Homo sapiens: one gene and its partner. The protein of the gene in region 1 purifies or fractionates together with the protein of each later gene. This does not show direct contact. Each region holds a gene or a part of one and is shown on either strand. Other genes may lie near its edges. The genes, in order: SPDEF and MECOM.

Region 1 (3,500 bases):
GGGGCTGAGCAGCAGGGCCAGAGTGGCCATCTCTGTCACTCCCTCAGTGCTCTTCTCAATGGGGACTAAAGCTGGGGTCTTGGGCTCTGGGCGGGCTGGCATTGGGTCTCAGGATTGAGGTAGGGGTGAGGATACATTTACCCCACACCACCATCTCCCCAGGAGGTAGGGCCTGAGAGCCGGGACCAAGCAGGATATGGAAGACAGGCTCCAACCCGCACAGCGACCTGGGTCCTTAGCAAACGCCTCCCAGGTGACTCCATTCCCGGAAACTGTGGTTCGGGAGCTGTCAGGGAGGGCATCTTTTGCTGATGCCAGTTGGGGTGTGGGAGTGAAAACCTGGGAGGCAAAGGGTTCAAGGGGCACATTTCTAGCCCCGAGGGGTGAGAGTAGGCAGGGTAGTGGCAGGAAAAGCTGCACTAAATCTCTCCTTTTGGGTCCCTCTGCTCACTTTCCTTAATCTTCCTTCCTGGGGGAATGGAAGGCGCTGAGAGAAGGGGCCCAAGGTGGCTAATCCCCCTGGCCGCCACCCCACCATTCTGCTCCTGTCTCTGGGCCTTGGCCTCCACCAGCTGTTACCAAACTTTCTTTGTCTGGAGTGGGATCTGGGGCCTCTGGAGCAGGAGGGAGCCAGGACACGCTGAGCCTTAATCCAGACATGTGGCTTAATCCAGAAGAGATCAACTCGAGGTTTGGGAGCTGGAGGCATCGCTCAGGAGACGGCAGCCCGTGGGACTGGCAGGCCAAGGCTGCAGGAACGCTGGGTCCTGCCATCTGAGGACCCTGGACATGGCAGACACCTGGCACGTCCCAGGACCCTTGGCCTACGGAGCAGTGGCCTGAGTGTCAGGAGGCCTCTGGTCTGGCCCTGGCTGTGCTGTGTGACTGTGGGCACCTCCCTGCCACTCTTTGAGCCTGAGCTTTTCCAGTGCACATGTGTCCCCATGGGTGGACCATCACTGATGGATTTAATCCTGGGCTGAATTGCATGGCACAGATGAGGCGAGCCTAGGAAGTCGCAGGAGGGAGCTATTAGGGAGGGCTCGCTGGGGCAGGAGGGCTTTGGGATGAATTGTGATGAGAAGGAAAGGGCATCTTAGAAAATAGCCATGTTGTGCCCACAGCACAGGGGCAGGTATGAAATGCCATTCTCATTAGAGCTTGGATTTGTGGTCACTATGTCAATCCCTGGTTCTGGTCCGGACCCTGCTGCTAATAAGCACATGAATCCCTTCCCCACTCTGGGCTTCATTGTTCCCATTCTATGAAACAATCACATAATATATGGCCCCTTCCAGCTCTGATTATCTGGGCCAGGTAGGAGGTAGACTCAGAGGTAGGCACCAGCCACTGGGATGGGGCAATGGGGAGCCATGGGAGATTCTTGAGCACAGGGGTGTCTGATGAAAGGGTGCTGCAGGGATATGAACAGTGGGGTGGAATGAAGAGCCAAGAGGTGGGGACAGACTTTAGAGCATCAAGGAGCCCAGTCAGGAGGTGGGCAGATCCCCTAGGAAGATGGGACTGGCCAGAGCATGCACCTCAGAGAGAATGTGGTCCAGTGAGCAGAACCCACACCTGGCCAGGAAGAACCCTGGACAAGCTGCACAGCCTCCCTGAGCCTCACTGTCCGCATCTATAAAGCAGGGCTCTGGAGTCCACGTCACCCTGGCTGTGGGTAGGAAAGCGGGTGATGTGGGTGAAAGCCTGGGCGTGGCACTGGTGCTCACTGCCAGGGGCTCACAGTGCCGTTCTCTCTTCTTCCCTCCTGAGGCCAGCCCAGAACCTTGAGACGCCTAGTTGCAGGTTGGGCACACCAGCCCTGGCTGCCTGACCAGTAAGCCAAGCCCCCCTACTCTAGGCCTGGGCTGCCTTGGGGACGGAGCATTCCCCACCACCCCTGATCTGCAGAGAGTCGAACCTTTCCTCCAACCACACAGTTAACCATTAACTTATTTTTCATCAGGGAAGTGTTGGAGCTAGGACCGAGGCTTGGTGGGGAGTAGATTCCTTGGCATTTAGGTATAGGGCAAGGTCAAGCTGGAATGTGGGGTATAGAGGGTGAAGGAGCCCGAGCCAGGAGTCAAAAGACCTGGATTTGGGGATTTACCTCTCTGCACCTTGACTTCCCCATTAGCAAAGTAGGGATGAGAATAAGACCTGGGCCAGATGAGGTAGCTTGTGCCTATAATCCCAGCAGTTTGGGAGGCTGAAGCAGGGGGATCACTTGAGCCCAGGAGTTCGAGACCAGCCTGGGCAACATAGTGAGACCATGTCTCTACAACAGATTTTAAAAATTAGCCAGGCATGATGGCACACACCTGTAGTCCCAGCTACTTGGGAGGTTGAAACAGGAGGATCACTTGAGCCCAGGAGGTCGAGGCTGCAGTGAGCCATGATCATGCCCCTGCACTCGACAGAGCGAGACCTTATCTCAAAAAAAGAGAGAGTAAGGCCTGTGCTGCCTTTCTCCTGGCAAGGGGATGGATGTGAGGGCTTCACATGCACTCAGCAAATGTGTCAAGGATGTGTCATTATATGCCTTCCTGGCAAAAGCTGCCACCTGCCCTGCCCATTCATCCCCACCGACCCCACACAACCATGCCTGAAACACAGCAGCTGCCTCCTGTCCTACCTGTGGCTGAGGCCAAGCAAACAGGAGGGCCACAAGGGAAGCGAGTTCTGCTTCTTGGAAAAGCTTCTGTCTCCCTGGCATGGCGCCCAGGGTGTTGGCAGAGACTGTCCTAACGTGGCAGGCATGGGGGCTCTGGGGATGTGGACGGGGCAGGAGGCAGGCAGGGGGTGATGAAGGAGGGGTGGGGGGCTGCGGGGGGGGGTCCCCAGGGGTGGAGCCACCTAGCGGGTAGGGCATGGGCACCAGGCAGGGTGGGGCCCAGGGGCAGAGCGAGCTGTTGGCACTGCCTGAGTAAATAATGTGGGCCCACAGCACACACGAGTGTTTGCACAGAAGGACTTGAAATGATTCCAGGTCTGCCCTCTGTCCCCCACATCCCCAGCCCCGCCTTGGTCTCTGCCCACCCCACCCCACCCTGACCTTTCCTTCCTTGTCACTTAAAGGAGCCCTTGAATGGGAGAGTTGAAATCAAAGGGAACACCCTTCCCTCCTGCTGGCATTTTCTCCACCACAGGAAGCTGCAGGGCTGCCATGTAACACTGGGAAGGTTGGGCACTGCACAAGGAGGGTGGGCAGAGGAAGCTGAAATTCTACCTAGGCTCCATTCGTCAAGCTATGCTATCCAGGGGGAAGGGATGTCATTTTCTGAGTTGTGTGAAATTGAATGGGCTAGCTGTGGCCCTACCGAAGTGGAGGTGTCTTCCAGACTGGGTTCTTTCCCTTGTCCCACCTGCAGAAGCAAATGCCAGCTGCATACGGAGGCTGCGCGGGTCAGTCTCACAGGGTAACTGGAGATGGATCAGGGAGCCCCCTTCCCCTCCTGCTGTCCCAGTAGGGCACCATAAATGTCACTGTTAGAGAGGAT
Region 2 (4,126 bases), on another chromosome or scaffold:
AATATAATTGCTGACTAGCAAATAGCAGAAAAATCTTCAACAAAATTAAAGTGGTGGAGGAAATTATAGTAGATCAAATGATGGAATATTGGGAAACTGCTACATTATTATTTTGAAGAATTTGTAGCACTATGCAGTGTAATTTTTTTTTCTTTTGACACAAGCAAAGAAAGAAAAAATAAATCTTGTTTACACGCAGTTATAACAATGAAAAAAGGATATTTTGCATGTGGACAAAAAATTAAAAGGAGCATAGAAAAGTCAAAGGTTTCCCCCCTTTGTGAATCAGTTAACACTACTCGTATAATGAAAAACAAAAATAAGAAACTGAGTTCCTTTTGGCATACAATCCGTAGAAAACCTGTAAGTCGCTCTTTGTCCTAATTTAAGTGGATGCTGTGAACGTGAAGTGATACCAGGACTGGGTTGTGGTGCACTTGAGCCCTGACTGCACCACATGGGGAAAGTACAGAACAATAAGCGAGACTCATTGTTGCCCAAGAACTATCATTTATGCTATCTCAAAACAAAACAAACATACTCTACATTCCACATATCTGTAGGGCATCAAGATCTCAGCATCATATCTTTAAATCATTGGATCCCAAAGGGAAAGTAAAATTGCATGAAGGAAAAATACCACACAGTGGGGAAAAATACTCCTTTTTGTAAGTCTTTATTTTTTAGTTGCTCCTCCCATAGTAATGCACTGAAAGGCATAACAGTTTATATTGTACAAAGCATTTGAAGAAAGTACCTCAACTTGCTGATTATTTCAAAATGAGATTACAAACAAAAAGAAAACAAATCTGGTTCCTCAATAAAGGGCAAAATAACTGAATACAGTCTGTTATTTACTTCTCTCTTTTAACATAAGGTTGGGAACACTTCATTTTACAAATAGGATTAACATGAACATAACATCGCACAAGCTTGCAGACAACCAGCATAAAATATGGAGTACAGTTTTTAATCAGAAGAATCATGCTTCCATGAAAGAAATTATAATCGTTTATACAATTGAATCGATTTCAGTATTACAAAAACTAAGTTGCATCTATTCGTATTTAGTTCATTAAGAAGGAAAACAAAACAAACAAACAAAAAGGAATGTTAAGAAAAGCCAAACACCATTTGGCACTCTCATACACAGGTCGGGTCACCTTGGTCCTTGAAATTCGGAAAGGGGTGTGCCTCAGACGTCATAAAGTAGTGGCTGACTGGAACAGTGCTATTTTAATCAACAAACAATAGTTTGCCAACAAATAAATACATGATACACGCAACACACACAAAAAAATAAACATTAAAAACAGTGACATGATTGTCTAAAATTAAGATGTTATTACAAGGATTTGGCAAACAATTTATTAGTGGTACAGCGGTACTGGTGATGAATAGGTTACTTCACTGACTTAACCTCTTTGAGTGTTAACATCCATAGTTTACAATATACACATACCCTTTTTCCCTAGTTTTAAACAATGTACTTAAGAAGGCAAAAGGGGGAACAAGTACTCCCTGTTATCAGTTTCTATAATAATTGACTGTGCATTTCATCCAACTACTTCTGTCTTCAAAGGGTTAAATTACATAAAACTTTAACGAAGAAAAAAATTAAATCTGTAATTAAAAGCAACTGTTCCCAATCATGTCAGGTGATCTTGTACAAAAGAGAATTCAGTTTCTATGGAGTGTTCATTCATATCAATGCTGCCATCTCAACTGCCCTTCTCACCCACCCATACCCTAAGGTGGGGTAAACTGGAAGATGCCTTCAGCCCACCAAGTTTTTTGTTTTCACTGAATCACTTTAAGTCGCATTGATTGATCTTCCAGAAGTCAGCAGCTGCCTTTGCTGTGCAAAACAAAATATCGAGAATAAATAGTTTCTTTTTTCTTTCTTTTCTTTTTTAAATCATTCAGTTTAAGGTCACTAGACTTTAGATGAGTGACCCTGCAGGTTTATAAGGCATTCTGCTCAGCAGTCTTGTAAATAGTCCTATATGAAAGAGCCATGCTACTGTTGGACTTGGTCCCACTCTGGTCAACCTTGATAACGTCATACGTGGCTTATGGACTGGATAGCACTGGATTCCGCCGCAGCCCTGGCCATACTGTGCCACACGTTGGAAGAACTGTGGGATGTAGAATGGAGGGACTCCTTGTCAGACAGTGACAGCATCATAGCATATGCCTGGGGTAAAAAGGAGAGAGACTCAGTAAATGGCATTTGAAAAACATCACTTTTAGTTCAAAGAATATTGTTGGTAAATGGAAAGGGATGGGACCCTGAGTAGGGGCATCCTTCATGGGTGTGTTTGGCAAAGAAGGCATATTTTTTGTAGAAACCACATGGGATTACTGCTGGCCTTTAGTGCCTAGGGGCCCCAAAAGTGACACACGCTACAGAACCAAAAAGAACTATCCTACCTAAAATGCAAATAGTGCTTCCATTGAGAAAAATGAGTCAGTCTCCTGTTCAACTATAAATACAGTCATCCATCCACTACATATGTTCAATTCACCAAAAATATTATTGTGTGCTTATGACTGAAACCTCAAATATTAATAAGATATAGACCTACCTTGACAGAGCTGTGGCCTAGTAGAGGATACAGCCTGACTCCTACACTTTATAACCGAAAGCACTGAAGGTGCTTGAGTGACTTGCCCAAAGTCACTCAATTAGATAGATAGTGGGAGAAGCATAACTAAAATGTATTTCTGCCCAACTTTTAATCCATTGTCTTTTCTCCAATTTCCCTCCATGCTTGACATACTCAGTCCTGGCACCCATAAGTTGAGGTGGATCAAATCAGCTCTACCAAAAAAATAAAACCAAACACAAGACCCAACAGTGTTCTAATCAACTTGTTTTCCAGTGTCTGCTGAGCAGAAGGTGCATGGAGGTGCTCTGTGAGGAAGTACTCTTTCTTCCCTATTATCATGTCAAATTTTAAATAACTGTTCAGAGAGTCCCCTATTTACTGCCAAGCAAAATATTCAAATGAAATGTTTGGTCTTGACTTGTAAGTGAACTTTTCACTGTTGATTTGCTATTGTTGGTCTCATCCATTGCTAAACTTGCTTGTCAAAATGCTGCTGAAGTGGAATCATTAAAGTCCTGCCAAAGACATTCCACTGTCTGTAAACAAAGACAAAATGCCTCTGTTGTTAGGCAGAATTTCATCTCTGGGAGTCATGCTGAGACATGTGGCCAGTCTGTGGTTTCTTCCGTAATCATTGCATTTAGTTAGAAAATTTACCCTTGTAGGCTGATTTTTGATTTGCTGGGTCATCGCTCTAAATGTACACATTTGACTTTTATGTATGCAATTTGCCTTTTGGACTTCTACAATATCTCATGATCCATTTAACAAATATTTCTTAAGCATCTACTCTATGCCAGGCTCTGTGATAGATCCTAAGAAATTAAGAATAAATAATATAGAGTACTTATCTTTGGCAGAGTTTAAAGTATGGGTTAAGTGAGCATTCAACCTAAATTATCTATTCTGATTATGTACCTACTTTTAGAGAACAAGATAAAGAGTACTCTGAAAGAGTTAAAACAAATTCTGATATTTGGGAAGATAAAAAGGAGTACAAAGAAAATTTTGGAATTTAAATTTTAATCCTGCCTTTAAACCTGCCTCTACTCACCTAGCTGTGTGATCTTGAGCAAGTTGCTTAACCTTTTAAGCTTTACTTTCCTCCTATAAAACAGATGATAGTAATAACAGTATTGGCCTCCAAGAGTTGTGGAGGAATCACATGCACTAACTTACATAAAGTGTTTAGCTCAGTGTGCCTGACTGAGGTAATACATAAATAGTACCTATTACCATGAAATTAATTTTTACCGGATAGAGTTTCTTGAGGGAGAGCACATGCAAAATGCAGCTACTATTGTACTGGTCAACTATTTTCAATTCAATCACTATAAAAATTACAGACTATAAAAATTACAGAATAAATATATGAATGCTTTGACTAAAGCATCTGAGCCTTTAGATTCTAGAAAATGGCAAAACAGCATATCTGCCTTTTGGTAATCAAAGGAAATAAACATTTTCATATATAAGGATCAGTGCCCAGCATATAGCTGGTAGTTAATAAATGA

What was found.
Region 2: the proteins of SPDEF (region 1) and MECOM purify together in Homo sapiens (affinity purification with mass spectrometry; 3 studies listed by BioGRID and IntAct, with this or other methods). This does not show direct contact.

The regions. Positions count from the first base shown.
Region 1 is NC_000006.12:34,546,330-34,549,829, reverse strand, and holds part of SPDEF (SAM pointed domain-containing Ets transcription factor), read left to right. Parts: intron 1-3,500. UniProt on the Homo sapiens protein: May function as an androgen-independent transactivator of the prostate-specific antigen (PSA) promoter. Binds to 5'-GGAT-3' DNA sequences. May play a role in the regulation of the prostate gland and/or prostate cancer development.
Region 2 is NC_000003.12:169,082,847-169,086,972, forward strand, and holds the end of MECOM (histone-lysine N-methyltransferase MECOM), read right to left. Parts: intron 2,198-4,126; coding exon 2,063-2,197; 3' UTR 661-2,062; downstream 1-660.